2 separate regions of the Homo sapiens genome follow, and region 1 is linked to region 2. Evidence: fine-mapped expression QTL. Tissue or cell type: atrial appendage. Region 2 holds a variant in brackets; the other region holds the start of a gene. All regions are shown on one strand. Distances are between the middles of the regions.

Region 1 (10,887 bases), 78 kb after region 2:
CTTTAGCCATGCATATTTACATCTTGTTCATCAAAAAATAATTATCTGCACTAAAATGAACTCTTATCATTGATAGTAATAGCATTACCTAGATGTACATTATTTTAGACAATTGCTTTAAATTTAATATTCTGATTTCTGAAACACATTCTGTTCAGGAAAAGAAAAAACAATGTCTCCAAATTCTTGATCCAATAGAAATTGCATAATCTTAAAAGGAAGAGTCCTGAGAGAATAGCGTGAGGTTGAGAAAAGATCTGAAGTGACAAGATAAGCAATTAATACTGGAATTGCTATTAGTCTGGTAACCTTCAGCAAGTCAGAGTCTCAGTTTCCTCATCTTGTAAAGTAGAAATAATCTAACTGGCATGGCTGGGTAAAGTTTAAGTAGGCCATCAGAAAATACTTTGTAGTCCATAGAGCATTAACTCATCCAGGCCCCTACTCAAAGTACAAAACTGCCCTTTAGCATCACTGACAGCCTCTTCTTGATCACTTCTAGTGATGGGGAACTCATCTTTGGAAGGTCATTTTTGACAGCCCTAATGATAAGAAAGTATATATATAAAGTGTGTGTGTGTTTGTAAAAATACACACATATATTTACATATGTACAATGATATACATACATACACATATATGTATATAGGCATATATATTTAGCCATAATAAATTCCTCCAACATCAGCTTCCTGGTTAATCCTGATCATCAACTCCAGCTCAGAGCTTCATTAAGGGAAGGAACAGGTCAGTGAGAATCTATTCTGTAGGAACAGGAACATGGGAACGTTTGTCACAGAGCTGATGACTGCCCTTGCTGTGTTTTGTTAATAACTGATTTATCTTGCTTATCATGCCTATTCCAGGCAAGTAGAATGAGTTTGCTTTCTCTGAGTTCCAGGGAGGAGGAAGCCAACACAGATGAAAGGGTCCCTGTGCTGTTCAAGAGGGTAGCACTAGCCACACAGCTATTCCATTTTAAATTAAACTAAATTAAAATTTTAGTTCCTCATTTCACAGGCTCAATAGCCATATGTGATTAGTTATTGTGTGGCATAGTTATCAAACATTTCTATTGTAGCAGAAGTTGTTTGAAGAGCTGTGGTTGATGATTCATTACCATCTACAATATGCCAGGGACCAGTTAAACTCTACATGCAAGCACTAAAACATCAATAGTGGAAGTTTTCTATCCCTTGAAAAAATTACATAATAGCATGATTAACTGAGCTCTTACTCCGGACAGTTCAAGAAAAAGGGTGGCTTTTATTCCCAAATGAACATCATAGGCTTCACACTCTTTCCCAACAATCTTAAGAAAGTGGAGATACTATTAATTGGTTACCTATGTTGTTATCAAATGCTCATTTCCACTTACATTTGGAGATCTGAGCTTCTCTCTAAGGCAGAGGTCTTTAAATCATGAGGTGCCACACCCAGATCAGAACTAAACAAAAATTGAAACTTTAAATTGGCAAATGTCATTGCTCATTTCTTCCTAACAAGTGAAGACCTATGGTTAATTCAACTGCAGGTATGGTGAAATAACTACAGTTACTTAGTTAGACACTATTTCTTTCACCACTTATCTGAGCGAAGAAGTCCAGGTTGGATACTATATGTAGAGCTTTATATTAACTTTTCTCCAGGAATAAGAAAGTGTCCACACTGCCGTTTGTCTTGAAAACATAATTAGGGAAGGTGTACCACAAAAGAATGGGATTCTCTCTGAGAGCATGTTTATCTACTGTCACAGCTTTAATTGGGAAGGGTGAAATATCTACATCTGGCTAGGTCTGCTCTTCAAGAGCTGGGGCCAGATATTTGCCATCTCTCAGCCTTGGTCTTTTCTTCTGTAAACAGCAGGATTGGAGTATATGATCAGAAAGGTTTCTGTAATTCCAATGACTTCCCAAAATAACCATGACCTGCATCCTATCTATAAACCTCACATAGTTCTCTCCCTAACCCATGCTGTTGTCACAACCCTCCTACAGTCTTTTTTTTAGGACTTAGTAAATCGTTCTGACAAATAACTGTATTCTACCCATAGGCTTTATCTTACAGTCAGCAAATCATTTGCTAAAGTGCTAAACTGCCAGAGTCATAAGCCCGCATTCTGGAGGGGCTTCCAGCAGTGGTTGGTAAACTACTGCCCAAAGGCCAAATCTGACCCACCTCCTATTTCTGTACATCCAAGAGCTCAGAATAATATTTACATTTTTAAATGGTTGGAAAAATAAAATTAAGCATAATATTTCATGTCATATGAAATTCAAATTTCAGTGTCTATAAATAAAGTTGCATTGGAACCCAGCGACATCCATTCATTTATCTATTGTCTATGGATACTTGTGGCCTACACAGCAGAGTTGAGTGGTATTTGGCCATACCACTATGACTACATAGTCTACATACCACTATGTATGTAGACTCTCTCATACAGAGACTGTATGGCCCACAGGCCTAAAATATTTACTACCTGGCCCTTTACCTGCCCCTGGGTGTAGAGCACAGACTCTAGAGTCAGATGGCTTGGCAGCATAGCTCAGCTCTGTTCTGTTCCTTCCCCTTCCTCAAAACTGTATAATAGGAATGACAATAGTACCTATCCCATGGGTTTTTATTAAGATTAAGCAAATAAGTAAAATGCGATGAGGATCTGGCATATTTTTATTATTATATATATGTCTGATGGTATTATAAGTTGCCACAATTTTTTCCAGCAAACTAAAGTATTAGCAGCTGACCAATTTGTTAGCAATAATTGTAAGAATTGAATTTGCAACACTCCATTAAAATTCAATTCTTTGTCAGATGAGTAGGTAGCGAAAATTTTCTCCCATTTTGTAGGTTGCCTGTTCACTCTGATGGTAGTTTCTTTTGCTGTGCAGAAGCTCTTTAGTTTAATTAGATCCCATTTGTCAATTTTGTCTTTTGTTGCCATTGCTTTTGGTGTTTTGGACATGAAGTCCTTGCCCATGCCTATGTCCTGAATGGTAATGCCTAGGTTTTCTTCTAGGGTTTTTATGGTTTTAGGTCTAACGTTTAAATCTTTAATCCATCTTGAATTGATTTTTGTATAAGGTGTAAGGAAGGGATCCAGTTTTAGCTTCCTACATATGGCTAGCCTGTTTTCCCAGCACCATTTATTAAATAGGGAATCCTTTCCCCATTTCTTCTTTTTGTCAGGTTTGTCAAAGATCAGATAGTTGTAGGTATGCGGCGTTATTTCTGAGGGCTTTGTTCTGTTCCATTGATCTATATCTCTGTTTTGGTACCAGTACCATGCTGTTTTGGTTACTGTAGCCTTGTAGTATAGTTTGAGGGCTAATATCCAGAATCTACAGTGAACTCAAACAAATTTACAAGAAAAAAACAAACAACCCCATCAAAAAGTGGGCGAAGGACATGAACAGACACTTCTCAAAAGAAGACATTTATGCAGCCAAAAAACACATGAAAAAATGCTCATCATCACTGGCCATCAGAGAAATGCAAATCAAAACCACTATGAGATACCATCTCACACCAGTTAGAATGGCAATCATTAAAAAGTCAGGAAACAACAGGTGCTGGAGAGGATGTGGAGAAATAGGAACACTTTTACACTGTTGGTGGGACTGTAAACTAGTTCAACCATTGTGGAAGTCAGTGTGGCGATTCCTCAGGGATCTAGAACTAGAATTACCATTTGACCCGCCATCCCATTACTGGGTATATACCCAAAGGACTATAAATCATGCTGCTATAAAGACACATGCACACGTATGTTTATTGCGGCATTATTCACAATAGCAAAGACTTGGAACCAACCCAAATGTCCAACAATGATAGACTGGATTAAGAAAATGTGGCACATATACACCATGGAATACTATGCAGCCATAAAAAATGATGAGTTCATGTCCTTTGTAGGGACATGGATGAAATTGGAAATCATCATTCTCAGTAAACTATCGCAAGACCAAAAAACCAAACACCGCATATTCTCACTCATAGGTGGGAACTGAACGATGAGATCACATGGACACAGGAAGGGGAATATCACACTCTAGGGACTGTGGTGGGGTGGGGGGAGGGGAGAGGGATAGCATTGGGAGATATACCTAATGCTAGATGACGAGTTAGTGGGTGCAGCGCACCAGCATGGCACATGTATACATATGTAACCAACCTGCACAATGTTCACATGTACCCTAAAACTTAAAGTGTAATTAAAAAAAAAATTCAATTCTTTAGCAGTAAAGCAGTGGGAAGATGTCTAAGGACAACTGATATGCCAATTCGTATAGCCGTTTATCCACGAAGCTAATTCTGCAGTACTTAAAAATATTTTATATGCTTTATACTTCTTTCAAACTTGAGTCTTGAGCTTGTACTCAACATCGAGTTCGGCCCTGACATCTACTCTTTATAGTCGGTTACCTCTTTCTGAAGAAACAGGCTTCCAAAGAGAGACCAGGGGACTCATTAGATGTCTCATCTACCTTGATGATTGCTACCTTGATGATTGAAAACAGTAACCTGCTTCCTGAATCAAACACAAAACAGGCAACATGCAGTGTCTTTGCTATGCCACAACAGGGACTATTAGAATTTTTCTCACAATTCGGACTTTGGTTTTCAAAAGGGCTTGCGAGGGAAGTTACACACAAGAGAAAAACAATGAACCGAATGAGGACAATAGCCCACGAATTTAGAATGGAGGAAGCCCGTCCACCACAGCGAAAAAGCACAGTACCACATTGGCGGGTGCTCCAATATTTGTGAAATGTTGATGACCCTTTAAATGTTTCTGTGCAACCTCCACAACAAATACTGTGAATCTTGCTTATTAATGCGTTTCTCAATACGTTAAAATTCAGGAAATCATTAAGTCTAGTCCTTAACAGTGAAGGGCAAGCAATTTTCTGTCATTGAAATTACACAAAACAAAACAAAAAGCTCACGCCTGAATTGCTTCGGACTATTCAACTGGAAGATAGAAAAATATATGAAGTAAAGAAGAATAACCTACATAGAAGTTCCTATCTCTTATCTTCCTGAATACTTACCAGTACACTATTAGTTTGTTCTAAACTTTTCTTATATAAAAAGTAGCTGAATACTTTTAGGGAAATGGATTGTTTTGTCTGAATCATCCAGATAATTCAAACAATTCATTTTCCTAAGAACGATATGTGTGAGTCTGTCCTGCCCGGAAAATGCCCTCTGTCCTACTCAGGACACAAGTCACGCTCAGCTTAAACAGGCAAGGAATTGTCCCCTAGGAAGGAAATACGCCGTTGTCGTTCAGTGAACTCTGCAACCAACAGCAAGCCAAACTCTCCCTTGCACACAGTTCGTCAAGTTAATTCTTATTTTCCAAGGGCGCTTTCGTATTTCCATCTTTCAAAGACTCCTTCACCCACTGGCACCTAAGGCTTGCCCTAACGCATCCAGCCCCTGCCTCGCGATGGTGCGCTCCGCTTATAATAGCTCCGTCCTGTCCAATAAAGTTGTTTAAAATAAGAAATGTGCCAGATAATAGCCAAGTCCGAAGGAAAAAAAAAAAAAAAGAATTCCTGGGGTGGTGTATTGGTGTTGGAATGTGCCATTAGTTTTGGAGGGAGGAAAGTCCCTGGTGTGAATTGCCTCGCAGGTCGTAGGCCGCCACTGGACCTTCAGTCGTGCACTGCATTAGCGCCGTAATGGCAAAGATACGAAGAAGCGCGCAGGCAGGGGAGCCACGGCCGCGCGCACAGGCAAGAGCTGGAGACGACTGCGGAGCGCGTCCCCCACGCCCGCGTGGTGCGCTCTGGGGCGGCCCCCTAGCGGCAGGGCGGGGCGGGGCAGGGGGCGGAGAGGCCTGGCGCACAGGGCGAGGGCGGCTGCGGCGCAGTCTGCAGCATGGCGTACCCGGGGCATCCTGGCGCCGGCGGCGGGTACTACCCAGGCGGGGTAAGTGCTGACTGCGCGGGATCGCGGCCCAGGCGGCTCCGGGGCGCTAAGAGGCCACCTTGGAGATGCTGCGGCCAGCGGGGTGAGGCGCTGCTGGGCGGCTACCCGGGCTCCTTCCGCCCTCGGCTTCTCCCTGCGCTCGCGGCCTCGCCCTAGGCCCCTGGGGTTCGGCCTCTCCCCACGTTTCCCCGTCCCTTCTCCTGGATGGCCCTGCGGGGCCAAGGTGAGGGTGGATTGGGACCCTAGAAGCCCACCCTGCGGCTTCTCGGATACGCGGCGTGAAATCGTGTTAATTGGGTGTTGGCTGACCCCCACCCCACCCCACCCCCGCCTTCTTGGTTGCCTCCCAGAGCAACAACAGTCATTTTATTCTAGAATGATATACCTTCCTCCCTTTAAAAAACAAACAAACAAACAAACAAACAAACAAACAAAAAACGAGTGAGAAGGGGGACGGAAAAAAAGGGAAAACCTGCTGAAGTAAAAGACCTGTAGGAAGGCAGCCTCGCCGGGCGTCTGGGATGCGCGTTGTCTTGGGAACTGTTTCCGAGACAGGCAATGTTCCCTCGCCACCCACGAGATACAGCCCGGCCGGACACCTTACTCTTCCCTAGGCTACACCCGTCTCAGAATGTTACCAACTCCAGCCTTCCATCGTTCATAAAACGCTCTTAAAATACCATAAATGCTGTAACAACAAAAGGAGAATTTGAAGCCCTGCCATTCGTTGGCTTACCTAGTTTGCACTCACCTCAGTAACCTTCAGGTTAATAGGGATTTTAAAAGTTGCTTTACATATGTAGACATCACTTTCACAGCAACTCTTTATGGTCTAAGTCGCCAGTTTTTAAATTACGGGGTGTGAATGGAAGAGAGGGGTGGAGTGTTGGCAGAGTGTGCCCGGTGGTGGGGAGGTGAGCCTTGTGAAGGGCGGGCAGGCGGGCAGTTGTCTGGCCTTGCACAAAAGCCCTCAGTGGTGAAAGAAGAAAACTTGATTCGGCAGAATGACGTGTATGTGTTTCCTGTTTCACAGTATGGAGGGGCTCCCGGAGGGCCTGCGTTTCCCGGACAAACTCAGGATCCGCTGTATGGTTACTTTGCTGCTGTAGCTGGACAGGTTAGCTTTTCCCTTTAATATTAAAGAGCCGTTATTGTCTGCATTTGTGGTAGCTTTTGATATAGTGACACAGAAAAGCGAACTTCCTGTGGTACTGAGTCCCTTTGCTTCTGCAAAAGAAAAAAAAAGTTGTTTCTTATTTTAGTTTTTTATTTCTGAATGTTCAGAATAAATGAGGACAAAGTGTTACTCGTATTTATGTGAGTTCAGTTCGAAAGCAAACTTGTGGTTGAATTAAAGGGTCCAGGATGGTTTCAAGCGAAAAAATTCAAGATCTGGTAAATATAAACGCTTGTTTGTACAACTTAAAGACATATATTAGTAATTACATAGCTCGATTCTAATGGGCACTTTCTTTGGGTTGAACTTGATTGCTAATCATTCACCCCCTTAGGAAATATGGTAAAAACCCACCAGCTTCTAAATAAGGAAGTTACTGTTCCCTTCTTAGTATCAGAAAGTTAATCTTGTGAACAGTGTAGTTTCTCTTTGATGCAGATGCTGTTACTAGGTCAGCCCCTCCATGTCCTTATTAGGTGTTCTGGCCTGTTGACCCAGAGAAGCAATTAAGGTCAGCTCCCCAAGACCTTTCACTTGTCTGCATTCTGAGTTGTATGACAGGTGCTATCTTACATTGACAGGTGCTATCTTACATTGAGAGAGGACACTTCCCTAGTTCATGAGGTCACTGTGTGCAGTAAATATACTGTTGGTATAACCCAGACACGTCCAGAGGAGATGTTTGTTCTTATGAATTCAACCTAGTTTTGTTTTGACCAAAAGCTAGAAATAGCAAAATCTTAATGTGAAAACTGTAGAATATTATGGGATAAAAAACCTAAGACCACTTTTAAGGTAGTACTCTAAGAAATACAGCTTAAGAAATTGAATGGAAAATATAGTCTAAAACTGGAAGACCTTCCCCTTAAGTATCTACTTAAACTGTTAATGATCTGTATCTTTGAAACCACAAGGCATGGCAAACCTCAAGACTAGCATTCTTAGATTGCCAGTGCCTCCAGCATGTAAGTGACTCCACCTGCTTAGCTTTCAGCAGCCCTGGCCTGTATTCAGCATACCCATTGTCTTTCAAATTGCTGATCTTGCTCCTCATTTATAACTTATAATACCCAGTGACTTGAAGATTTAGGTATTTTATTTTAAAGTCCCTAAAAATCACATATATCTAGTTCTTTCCCAGTTCAGCCAGTGAATGGGCACTGGGAACCTAATGTGAATCTTCCAGATGTATTTGTGCTCTGAAAAAAATGATTCACTATATCATAAGAAAAAGTGACCAAGGAGGCCTTTTTCTGTTTGAACCAAGCCTTCTATTTATTGATGTCTGCTTTGTACCTTGCTCTCTCCACCCCCATCAAAAAAAAATATTTTAAAATGTTTAGCTGTAGCAGTTTGCTAGCTCAGATTGAGAGAAGAGTAGTTGCCAAGACAGACTCTTTCTTTCATCATTAAATTACTTTTGGAAGTGGGTTAAGGAAAAGAATGCCCACTTTTGGAAGGCATTCCTTTTAATAAAAAAAAGGCATTCCTTTTAAATAAAAAAAAGATACTGATTTTCTTTGTTGTTATTGCTTCATTGAATGCTGAAGGTAAACAACTTGAAAGTACAAATCACTATTATGATTCCTCTAATTTTTTTTCAAAAGGATGGGCAGATAGATGCTGATGAATTGCAGAGATGTCTGACACAGTCTGGCATTGCTGGAGGATACAAACGTAAGTTGACAGTCCCAAAGTTTGTCTAAATATACTCTTGTGTTTCCTATCTTAGCTGTTACTTGTGATTACAGCCTTCAAGAAAACTGAGCTTGTCGGATCTAGCAAAGTTTAGAATTCCGAAAGCTAAAATACAGTACTATTTCAAAATGTTGATTTGAAAACAGTTTTTAAATCACTCCAGGCTGGGCACAGTGGCTCACACCTGTAATCCCAGTACTTCAGAGGCCCAGGCAGGAGGATCGCTTGAAGCCAAGAGTTTTTGGCTGCAGTAATCTATGATTGTACCACTGCACTCCAGCCTGAGCAACAGAGCAAGACCTTGTCTTTAAAATAATAATAATAATAAATTATTCCATCCTACCTGCCAATCTAGTGGATTTCTCAGATTTGGGTTTTGTGTACCTAGAACCAGTGAGACAGTTTGGGTGGCCTCCTTCACAGAGGACAAGGTAGGGTGCTGAAATGGAATCTGCCAGGTCAGGGGTCATTAACTGACATTAGGAACTGATATTTACTGTTATTTGCCAAGAGCCTACTCTGCCCTGACCTGGTGGCACTTAGGGCTTTGAGTTGCTGCCCTGCACCCCTGGTCCCTGAGTGGCCTATCCTGCACTCCTGGTCTCTGAGCTTTGGGCATGCTCCTGCTAACATAAGTGGTTGCCATGACATCCCTCAGGTCTTTCCTCTTCCACTTCATAGAATGTATTCAGGCTAAGTGGGAAGTGGCCTTTCTACTTACTGGACCTGCTGCTCCATAATTCAGCCCTTACCCTACCCCTGCCTTTTGAACACTCTGCCATGAGCTGAGAGTAATGAAATACTGCAAAGATGCTCCATCCCTGGCAGGGCACAGTGGCTCACACCTGTAATCCCAGCACTTTAGGAGACTGAGGTGGGAGGATTGCTTGAGCCCGGGAGTTCAAGACTAGCCTGGGCAACATAGTGAAACCTTGTCTCTGCAAAAAATTTAAAAATTAGCCAGGCATGGTGGCATGCACCTGTGGTCCCAGCTACTCAGGAGGCTGAGGTGGGAGGATTATACAAGCCCAGGAGGCGGAGGTTGCAGTGAGCCAAGATTGTGCCACTGCACTCCAGCCTGGGTGACAGCCTGTCTCAGAAAATCCAAAAAATTGCTGCATCCCAACTGGGGGCTTCTCATCATCCAACACATATGAAGTGGTTCCTCTTGAAATTAGATCTTGAACATGATAGATTTCCAGGGTAGAGAATAATGTCTTAGTTCAAATACATTACCAACTTCTTTGCCAGTTGTTAATTGAGACAAAACATCAAATTGAAGACCCAATTTCATGGTTAGCTGTGGATTAAAATGTTCAAACTAGAATTCACAGCTGTGAATTTATAGTGGCCTTTTTTTAAAAACTATTTGACATGGCATGTATTAGATGGCTGTCTTTGAACTCTTTGCATTTGTTTTCATTATCCTTTGTTTTATGTGACTTTAGTATCCTATTACTCTTTCCTAATTAGAGGAATTAATACAAACGAAGAACCTTTCAAGTTCCTGTTATTTAATCTAGTCCTAAACAAAATAAGCACTTTTTGGATTAGGGGATGTTATTCTTTACTGTGTAGGCAGTACATTTAAATTGTTAATTGTTACGCAATTGAGCTGGTAAACAAGGTAGGCCTGCCTATTAGCAGGGTTTATCAAAGTGCAGTGAGATCACAGCATGGCCTGTTATTCTACATCCTTTCAGTAGATGAGGTGTGGCAGATTTTAGAATCTGACTAACAAAATGGGTTGTATATTGTTAGAGAGCAGTCCTTTTAAAATTTCATTGAGAAAGCCACATTTAGTGATGGCCTTAGATCAATGCATTAAAGAGAAAGCATTTCCTGAATCATGGGGCCTATGTGATTGAATCCATTTGCCTACTCTCTGGTGGCCGTACTGAACCACAGAACCATCCTGCCTATGAGGTGTCAGTGTTTTGTAATGCAGATATTATATGGCCATTAGTCTTTTAAACCCAACTTCCAAACCAAAAAGCACAGGTCCGAATTGGATGAGCAGGTGGGATACTCCAGCTCAGAGCCTATGGGCCCTTCTTAACCAGTTTAAA
Region 2 (10,887 bases):
CCTCTTTCAGAAACATATCATTGCAAAAGAACACACTATTCTACTAAAGGAAGTATATACACTCTAATTAACTAGGCAGGACATTGACATCCCAATCTAAATTCTTCTCCACAATGTTCTGTAAGAGTTTATTCAGCCATGTGTGGAGAGGTTTACTGTACTGTACTTTGGCAGTCACATATTTCTGAAAAGCTATTTTGGGAGGACTTTTTTTTTTTTTTTTTGAGACTGAGTCTCGCTCTGTCACCCAGGCTGGAGTGCAGTGGCAGGATCTTGCCTCACTGCAACCTCTGCTCCTTGGGTTCAAGCAGTTCTCCTGCCTCAGCCTCCTGAGTAGCTGGGATTATAAGTGCCCACCACAATGCCCAGCTAATTTTTTTATGTTTAGTAGAGAAGGGGTTTCGCCGTGTTGGCCAGGCTTGTCTGGAACTCCGGTCCTCAGGTGATCCATCCGCCTTGGCCTACCAAAGTGCTAGGACTACAGGTGTGAGCCACCGCGCCCGGTTGGAGTTTTTTTTTTTTTTTTTTTTTTTTTAATGCAGATTATATGATCAATCCTAACATCAGGATAAAGTTCCCTTTTCATCTTAAAAGGAAGGAAAATGTTTGCAAAGAGTAATTTTGAAAAGTTAGGAACTATAATTCTAAATAAAAAGAAGGCTAAAAGAAAATAAAACTATATAGCACAGCTCTTGGAAGATTATTAGTAGAATACAAGCTAGTCAGTTTGGCCTCAGCACCCAATTTTTTTTTTTTTTTTTTTTTTTTGAGACAGTCTCACTCCTTCACTCAGGCTGGAGTACAGTAGCGCGATGTCAGCTCACTGCAACCTCCATCTCCTGGGCTCAAGCAATTCTCCTGCCTCAGCCTCCTGAGTAGCTAGAATTAAAGGCATGCACCACCAAGCCTACCTAATTTTTGCATTTTTAGTAGAGATGGGGTTTCGCCATTTTTGCCAGGCTGGTCTTCAACTCCTGACCTCAAGTGATCTGCCTGTCTTGGCCTCCCGAAGTGCTGGGATTACAGGCGTGAGTGACCGCACCTGGCCAGCACCCAATATTAAGGAAAAAAAAATGCATTAAGAACAGAGCCAGGGCTCAGAGAGCTGATGGCACCAGCACTGTGGAGCGTAGAAATAGGAAGGGATAATTAATGGTCATCGCTGATTGTTCATCTTTCATCTATACCTGCTCTTTTTACAGGGTGTGAAAACAGTTTTGAGCTCAAGTTAAATTGTGGCTGCAAAACTTTTGCACAGACTTTGGAAAACTTACTTGTTCCGCTTCCTGGCAGATTCAAGTCCCTCCTAGCCTGTAGGCGCCCATCCTCTCTACACATTCGTCTGCTCTGGCCATTACACTATGCATTGCAACAATTTGATTATATGCTTCATCTTTCCCAAGACCAAAGCTCCTTGAGGACAGGGTCCATCTCGTTTCTCACTTTATCCCTCTTAGTGTGGCTATTCAATAAATCTCTGTTGAAAGCAAGGCATTGCTAATAACACTGATTTTTATTTTTGGAAGATACTTACCTTATGGACATAGTACATAATGAGTATGGATGCTGCCTGCACAATATTAGTTAACAGGGTCAAAGTGCAGTGGCAAAGTCCACATTTTAACTTCCTACCATTCAGGGAGAGGCATGAGGTTGCTTTGAACTGTATAGCACATATAAAGTGAATAGTTGAAATTATTATAACATTTTATTTAAAGTAGAAGAAACTGCAGGAACCTTGGTATTTCCTGATTTAGTGTCCCTATTATGTTGCTATACTGTATTGTAGTTACAAATTTATTTGTAATATTTTGTATTCTAATTCGTTTTAAAGAGTGATATGGGGCCAAACACGGCGGCTCACGCCTGTAATCCCAGCACTGTGGGAGGCTGAGGCGGGCGGATTGCCTGAGCTCAGGAGTTCAAGATGAGCCTGGCCAACATGGTGAAACCACATCTCTACCAAAAATACAAAAATTAGCTGGGCGTGGTGGTGCACACCTGTAGTCCCTGCTACCTGGGAGGCTGAGGTGGGAGAATAGTTTGAACCCAGGAGGCTGAGGTGGGAGAATAATTTGAACCCAGGAGGTAGAGGATGGCACCACCGCACTCCAGCTGTCTGGAAAAAAAAAAAGTGATATGGGGCCAGGTGCAGTGGTTCACACCTATAATCCCAGCACTTTAGGAGGCTGAGGTAGGAGAATCACTTGAGACCAGGAGTTCAAGACTAGCCTGGGCGATGGTAAGACCCCATCTCTACAAAAAATAAAAATTAAAACGTTAGCTAGGTGTAGTAGTGCATACATGTAGTCTCAGCTACTTGGGAGGCGGAAGTGGGAAGATCTCTTGAGCCTGGGAGGTCAAGGCTGCATGAGCCATGATCATGCCACTGCACTCCTGCCTGGGTGACAGAGCAAGACCCTGTCTAAGAATGATATGCTCTTCTCCAGTACCAAAGTACTAAAGTGATTTATTCATCCTATTCAATTCCCTGACATAAGTGGCACAAGAAATGGGAGGAGATTGAGGAGAAAGCAATTAGCTGGTTGGTAAATGGTTCATTGCAGTTAATAATGAAAGTGTGCCAGTTGCCTCTGGTTTTCATAGTTGAGATCCTAAACTGCACTTACCCTAGTTCTGAGGTGTGTCTGAATAACTTTAAAATACGTGCTGGGGATGGTGGTACACAGATGGGTCCCTGTATCTATCTCCCTTAGGGAACCAAGAGTCTAAAGCTATCAGGTTTATAGCTAAAATTGTGTTGATGCCATGTGTGAGGTAGAGAGGGTCTGGAACCTTTGTTGGGGTAGGGAAACCACAAGGATTCTGTTTTCCTAAAGAACTTAGGAGCCTTGTAAGAAGGTGAGGCCATAAGAAAATAGATTTATGCTCAGATTCAGCCAGGACTGGGAAAATGGTATTATCCCATCAGCCCAAATATTTTCCCATTTTTGTGGTCACATTCCAGAGTCTTGGGGAAAAGGGTAAAAGAAGCAGGGGAAGAACCAGTGGTATGTTGGTAAATGCCTCTCTAAGGAAAAAAAAAGTCCTGATTTGTAGCACTTGGTGATTGTCATAAGGTAAAAACTCCTACTGTGACTGATTTCAAGCTCCCAGCTGGCAAGCTGGCCACAGCCACACCACTGAAAGGCTGAGATTAAAAACCTGAAAACTAGGCCAGGCACAGTGGCTCATACCTGTAATTCTAGCGCTTTGGGAGGCCAAAGGTGGGCAAAGTGGCATAGGGGATGTGGAGGGAGGGGCTGATTACTTGAGGCCAGGAGTTTGAAACCAGCCTGGCCAACATGGTGAAACCCAGTCTCTACTAAAAATACAAAAAAAAATGAGCTGGACATGGTGGCACGCACCTGTGATCCCAGCTACTCAGGAAGCTGAGGCATGAAAATCACTTGAACCCAAGAAGCAGAGGTTGCAGTGAGCTGAGATCACACCGCTGCACTCCAGCTTCGGCGACAGAGCAAGAGTATGTCTCAAAAACTAAAATAAAATAAAAACCTTGAAACTAAAAAGAAAGAGCTGTTTATTTTAAAATATTTATCAACTAGCAATGCTCTCAAGCTTGTATATCAGAATATTACAAAAGGTTAGAAGAAGGAATTTCAAGAGCACTTTCTCCCCTGAGGTCAGAAATGGAGCAGCTGCAAGGCCAGATTATAGCCAGCAGCTCCATCTGATGGGTCTCAGCAAACATCAGAGGCACTGGGGCCATGGGGAGTCCTTGCCTCTGAGTGCCGTATTAGAAGTTACCCAAAAGAAGATGAAGTAGGCTATATTCATAAGCATTGTGGACTGCCCCCAGAGATTTCTAAAAATGGTTGGGAGATACCTTAAAGCAGAATGGAGTTCCTCCAACAGCAAGGAATGGGGGTGGGGTCAAGATCCACAACAAAACTGCTTTCTCCAAACTAACTGGCAGTTATTGATATTTAGATAATTCCTATTGGCCTTAATCTAAAGATAAATGCCCATTCTTAAGAAATTTTATTTGAACAAAGTTAATTCAAAATTGAAATTACAAATTACTTCCCAAATATCTCTGACCACAATAGACCTAGAAAAGCAAAACCCACTAATGAACACTAAATATTAGGGGAGTTGATGCAGATCATCAGATTAAGCAAATGCTTATGTAGTATGTACAAGCCAAATGCCACCAAAGCCATGAGATAGAGCTGTTTTTCTGATAGTGGCAATCCACTGGTCCTGGTCATGACCAGATGCCTAATCTTTGGTGACCCACAGATTTGTAAGAAGTTGTTCAGGATTTAAAATGTAAATGGAAGTCAAGGTAAATTAACCCAGAGACACGACTGAATCCCTGACCTTGTTGTCATGAGTCCTGGGCTTTAATCAGATAAACTAACCAGCTTGGACAGCAGATAATGAACCTACCTGATGAAATTCTTGGCCAGAGAATTATAAAACAATCTTAATTTATCTTGACAGATACTGCTGAGATCGAAATGTGGCAACATGTATTAATGAGATTTTTAATTGAACTAGAATTTCGACAAAGAACCTAAATTTAAGATAAATAAGTTTATCCTAAAATACAATTAAAATAGTTAACATAGATCTCTATTACCTCACTTTCCTCATAATTTATAGTGTTAGTAAAATATTACTAACAATCACTTTAGTTGCCGCATATGACATAGTTAGTTCATAGCTAGTTGTTAGCAATTCATGTAGGATACATCTCTATAGAACATTAATGTAAAGATTGCCTTTAATTATGCTCTTGTGACTTGATGAAACTGTGCAAGTTAAGATTACTGTGTTTTTGTGTGCCATTCTATTGTCTAGCATAAAAAATAATCAGCAAATTCAGTTGCTATGGGATACAAAACATTTTCTCACAAAACAATTGAAATAATCAGTTTTTTAGCAACCAACCTGAAGTAGTTTCTTTATGTAGAAAAAGAGCTTTAAATGATATATTTATATTAATCTATAGCAATTAGTAACTTAAGTAGTTACTAGAACTTATTTTGGAAATCACAAGTTGATGATTTATCATGCTACAGGATTGCTCTAATTTTTACTTAAACTGATAGTAAGAGAATGGGCAGCAATATGAACTTATGAGAAGTGCACATGTCTAAGAAATTAGATGTAGGTTCTGAAAATTAGTTTGGATAAGCTTTTGCTCTCTTTAACTCAAGTTCCTCTCCCCCTGGAGTAAAAGGTGTGTGTGTGTGTGTGTGTGTGTGTGTGTGTGTGTGTGTGTGTTTACAAGAACCAGTTTGATGTAATTAGAATTTAAATTTCTAATCAAATTATATTTTAATATCAGAAGAGTTTATCTTAGTTCTAGTTGACATTCAATTAAAAAGGGATACTAATACACAAGCTTGAAGTTTCTTTCCAGTGGACCCTGTTCCTCTGACCACATTCTCCAATTCTCACTCAGTTAAAAAGAGCTACAAATATATAAAAGCATTTCATAATCTTTCATTTCATATGACCCAGCTATTAAATTATCTTTAAATGTCAGTAATAGCTTCTTTACTAATCTAGTTGCAAATTAGGCTATTTTAAATGGAGGGCAGATTGTCCCCAACTTATGTAAGTTAATGGTTCAACTTAAGATTTTTTTACTTGACAATGGCACGATAGCA[C/G]TATGCACTCAGGAGAAACCATACTTTGAGTACCCAAGCAAACATTCTGTTTTTCACTTTCAATACAGTATTCAATAAATTACATGAGATAATCAACACTTTCTTATAAAATAGGCTTCATGTTAGATGATTTTGCCCAACTGTAAGCTAATTAAGTATTCTGAACATATTTAAGGTAGGCTTGGCCAAGCTAAAATGTGGGCAGTTTAGGTGTATAAACTGCATTTCTGTCACAATGTTTTCAACTTATTATGAGCTTATTGGGATGTAACCCCATCATAAATTGAGGAGCAGCTGTATTTTTGTAAGGGTTGCCCTTTGCTACCACAGTTAGTTCATACATATGCACTCACTTTCCCCCCTGCCTGGAAAACTCACCTGCAAACTCCTTCTTGCCTGTCAGGTCTCAGCTTGATTTAAGGTTGCCAGATAAAATACATGATGCCCACTCAAACTTGAATTTCATATTAAAACACATTTGTGTTTTTAGTACAAATGTGTCCCAAATATTGCAGGGGATATACTTACACTAAAAAAGTATTCATTGTTTATCTGACATTTGAGTTTAATCGGCATTATGTATTTTTATTTGCTAAATCTGGCAACCCTCACTTGACTGGCACCTCCTTGGAGAGATTTATGCTAAACAGTTCTCAAAACTAGTCTCCCTCTCTGTCTCCTCCCAACATTTTCTATTCCATCACTCTGCTCTGAATTCTTGTGAACACTTACTACCATCTGAAATTATCTTATTTTTATGTGTGTGTTGTCCAACTTTCTTATAATAATGTACACACACACTGTTTTTGAAGCACACAAATTCAGAGATCAGTCTTAGCACTTTGTAAGGAGATAACATTTCCAAACTCTATATGAGATCTGTATTCTTCACCTCTTTACCCTCAACCTATAGAATAGCATGTGGTACACAATAGGTGATCAATAAATATCTGATGAAGGAAGGTGTTAATGTGTATATTAAAAGAAAGAATTTGAAAATTATACATAAATATCACCAGGAAGAAATTGCCCTTGCAAACAGCACTACTTCTAACTACAAAGCTAAATTTTAAAATATACATTTATATTTTCAAATGACTTATATATGGCTTAAAGATTGAACTGTCCAAAAAATGTTAGAAAAAGCCATTTATTATGGGCATTCTTTTTTTTAATAAACTGTAATCAGTGATCTTTTTAAACCAAGGTCTACTGATTTTGCTACAGTAATACCTACCTGCCAATAAAAGAATATGTAGTTGAATGTGAATGTTTGTTATCCCTAGGGAGCCTTGATCTCACTAAATACAGAAATAGCTCAGTGAATAAATTGGATACGTTTGTGTTTTCATGGAAGGTTTTTATTTTTTTTAATATTTTTTGCTTTCTAATTGTCCCTGGGATATATTAAAACAAATGCTGTGAATCACAAGAAGACTGATATAGTTGCAGAACCCCCTCCTGCCCTTTTGCCTTGTGATGAAAGGAAACATTTGATTGATGGATTTCGGCTCATTACAAATATGTTATCAAGTCATCAAGGGCTTTTGGGTTGAAATTCAGAAAGAATAATAAAACAGAAGGAAGGACTTTAAAAAAACCCTCCTATTTACAGCTGTTAAATTAAAATAAAAAATCCTGTCACATCTTAAACAGTTTGAAGGTGTTATTTGCATTTCAACTCTCTGGAAGGTGCCAAGCCAGATCTCTGATTTGTGTGCTACACTAGTGGTTGTATGTGTCCAGAGGGGATAATGTCTGAGGAATTCAGATGTTTGGATGAATGATTATTTCAGAATTCAAAGCTGAATTCTCAAAAAGAGAAAGAGGCAGAATGATTTTATTAATGGCTTCACCCAACTGATTAGTAACACGTTATCACATTATGCTGTACTATGTGATAGTTGCTATTAGGGGTACCGAGTAGATGTATAAGTAGATCTGATCAAATTATAATTTCATGGCTCTTGGAAGACAACTCTTTAAGGTTTCCTTGAGAGAGTTATGGAACAAACCTTACCTACAGTTTGACAAGTCTTGAATCTGGCATACCTTGAACTCTCTCTTTTCCAAGGCCTGCACACTCAAAACATACTCATTTTGCCTCCGGTTCTCAAAAAGAGAGGAATTCTAGCTTCTCAGCCAAAGAAGACTTAGAGGAAAAAATTGTAAGGAAGGTGAAGTTTCTGCAGCTCCTTACAACCTTAACATCCTGTTCTTCCTCTTATCTTTCCTCTCCCTACCACACCTCTCCAAAATAAAAAGGAAAAGAAAAAGATAACTTTACCTTTTTCCACCTCCAGTGGTTCTCCAAAACGGGTGCTCTTCAGAATCGCTTAAGTTTGTTTTAGTTTGGCTTTTAAAATACAGATGCCTGGGCTCTACCTCAGATCAATTGATTCAGAATCTCAGGAGGTGGTTCCCTAGCATTTTAACGGCTCCTCAGCTGATTCTAATGTGTTACCAGGAAGAAGAACCGCAGTAGCAGGCCATTAAGTGAAAGCTAACATAAAAGCTGATAAAAGCTTTAAGGCAATGGTTCTCAAGCTTGGCTGTACATTTGAATCACCTGGGGGAGCTTAAAAAAGTGCCCAGGCTCTACCCTAGACCAGTTGATTCAGACTCTCCAATAGTCTGGGCCTTCAGGCTCTCTACCTGATTCTCATGTGCACCAGGGTTGAGAACCACTGGTTTCTAGTGTAACCCTTTGCAGAGGTATTTGCATTTTCATAAGCCTTAGTGTAGACCTTTGCAGAGTTATTTGTATTTTCATAAGCAACTAAGAAGTTGCTTCAATGATTAAAGACAGGAAAGGGTGCTAGGAAAACATCTGTCTGTCTGTACCACCACCATGTCCTCTCTCTTTCTGAACCCTTCCAAACCAATCTTTGTAGATAGGTTCTTCTATGCCTACTTATCTAATGACGGATCCCAGCATACTATTCTCTGTTACTAAAAATTATGTTGTGATGATTGAAACTGATGAAAGACTGTTGTCTTTACACTTGTTTTTATAATGATTACCTCCAAAATTTTCATATAAAACTTTTTTACATTTTAAATTTGTATATTTTTGTAAAATTAGGTGAGCTAAGAAACAAGTTAGACTCCTAATGGTGTGCATAAACAATGGTTGAGTCTTTGCATAAAGAAATCTATCTTCATTTGTATACTTTGTGTGTTTTTTAAAAATAAAAGAAATCAGAGGGATTCATGGAGGCTAATTTTCCCTTCCAGGCCTATCTGTACCAAAGAAAAGGGAAGATTTTCTTGCCTTTTCTTTTTCTACAAATGGCATTATATGCATAGGTATTTATATATTTTTATCTTTATGAAATTTCAGGGGGAAACAATTGGCCCATTTTCCAAGTGTAAGAAAAGAAAGTACCACCATTTAGAAGAGATATGGTTAGGTTGCTGATCTTTGTTCTTATTACTAAAAGAAATGAGAAACAGGATCTATTCCAGGGAATGGGAGGGACAAAGGGACCATTTGGCCCCAGGCTGCTTACACACAAAGACCTTCAAAATTGATTTTTACTTATTATTTAAATGAGATCTATGCATATAGTCCATCATATAACTTTAAACTTGTGCCCATTTATTAGATACAGGTTGAGTATCCCACAACCGAAATGCTTGGGACCAGAAATGTTTTGGATTTCAGATTTTTTTTTTTCATTTTAAGTTACTTGCATATACATAATGAGATATCTTGAGAATGAGACCCAAGTCTAAAGACAAAATTTATGTTTCATATACACCTTATACACATAACCTAAAGGTAATTTTATACAAACCGTTTAATAGGTTTGTGCATAAAACAGAGTTTTGACTGCTTTTGACTGCAACCCGTCACATAAAGTCAGGTGTGGAATTATCCAATGGTGGTATCATGTCTGAAAGTTTTGGATTTTAGAGCATTTCTGATTTTATATTTTTGGGTTAGGGATGCTTAACCTGTATCTACACACTGCTATTATGCTTTTGTATGAATTAATTTTTTAGCACAGTCATCTATATTTTTCTCCTAAAACATGAACTGCTTTGCATTGAAGTTTTGGAATATTTTTAAGCATTTTTTTTAATTTAAGCATTTAAAGTACATTTTTTAAAATTTATGACAAGATTATTCTAAAATTTATAGGACTGAAAAGGAACTAGAGTAGCTATAATAGTTTTCAAAAAAAAACATAGTGGGAAGAATCACTGTACCCAATTTTAAGACTTATTATAAAGCTACAGCCATCAACATTGTTGGTATTGGCAGAGGGATAGACACATAGATCAATGGAACAGAATAGAGAATGCAGAAATAGACCCACACCTCTATGTATAACTGATGTTTGACAAAAATGTGAAAGCAATTCAGCAAAAAATAAGGATAGTCTTTTCAACAAATGGTAGAAGAGTAGTTATGTATTCATAGGTCAAAAAATAAACCTTGTCCTAAACCTTACACTATGTATGAAAATTACTTAAAATGGATCATAGACTTATAAGTAAAACTTTTAGAAGAAAACATTCAGGACCTAGGGCTTTGTGAAGAGTTTTTGGGTAAGATACTGAAAGCGCAATCCATGAAAGAAAAAAAATTAAATAAATTGGACATCATCAAATTAAAAAATGTTTGTTTTATGACTTCGGATGTGTTAAGACATGAAAAAAACAAGCTATAGGCTGGCAGAAAATGCTTGCAAATCACATATCTGACAAAAGACTCATATGTAGAATATATAAAGATTGTCAAACTCAACAGTAAATAAACCCAAACAGTCCAATTAGAAAATAAGCAAAATACATGAAGAGACTTCTCACCAAAGAGGACACACAGAGAGCAAATAAACACATTAAGAGATATGCAACATAATTAACCATTAAACAAATGCAAATTTAAACCACAATGAAATATCAGAATGGCTAAAATAAAAAATCATGACTCATAAATACCTGGTAAGGGGTAAATTAGTACACATTCGAAGTCAGTATAGCCAAGTCTTAGAATGCTAAACAAACACCATATGACCCAGAATTTGTATCCCGGGGTCTTTATCGCAGAGAAATGAAAACTTATTTTCACACAAAAACCTGTAGGTGAATACTCATAGAAGCTTTATTTGTAATAGCCAAAACTGGAAACAACCAAAATGTCCTACCTTAGATGAAGAGTTAAACTTTAGTATATCTATACTGTAGAATACCGCTCGGCAATAAAATGGAAGAATTATTGATGGATCTTAAGTAT

Which allele goes with the higher level. Positions count from the first base shown, and alleles are read on the strand shown. Sizes are in standard deviations (SD) of each study's normalised expression.
For the expression in atrial appendage of the gene that starts at base 5,881 in region 1, C is the low allele of the variant in region 2 and G is the other (small effect, 0.22 SD a copy in GTEx).

The links.
Region 1: it holds the start of SRI, and the variant in region 2 is fine-mapped to the expression of SRI in atrial appendage (GTEx, PIP 0.95).

Annotation. Positions count from the first base shown.
Region 1 is chr7:88,215,032-88,225,918 of GRCh38, reverse strand. It overlaps SRI (sorcin), which reads left to right and starts at 5,881. Exons shown (of 8, transcript NM_003130.4): 1 at 5,881-5,943; 2 at 6,977-7,060; 3 at 8,728-8,797. The coding sequence starts at 5,893. SRI-AS1 (SRI antisense RNA 1) reads right to left here and starts at 9,259. Exons shown (of 3, transcript NR_120517.1): 1 at 9,162-9,259; 2 at 6,695-7,170. LOC124901691 (a long non-coding RNA gene) reads left to right here and starts at 9,335. Exons shown (of 2, transcript XR_007060419.1): 1 at 9,335-9,476. RefSeq lists silencers at 5,659-6,158, 6,806-6,895.
Region 2 is chr7:88,292,833-88,303,719 of GRCh38, reverse strand. All of the region lies in intron 1 of STEAP4 (STEAP4 metalloreductase), which reads left to right. All of the region lies in intron 1 of LOC124901692 (a long non-coding RNA gene), which reads right to left. Among named protein-coding and RNA genes, the nearest start is that of STEAP4, 8.6 kb to the left of the region's middle. The variant C/G (reference allele first, on the strand shown) is at 5,643.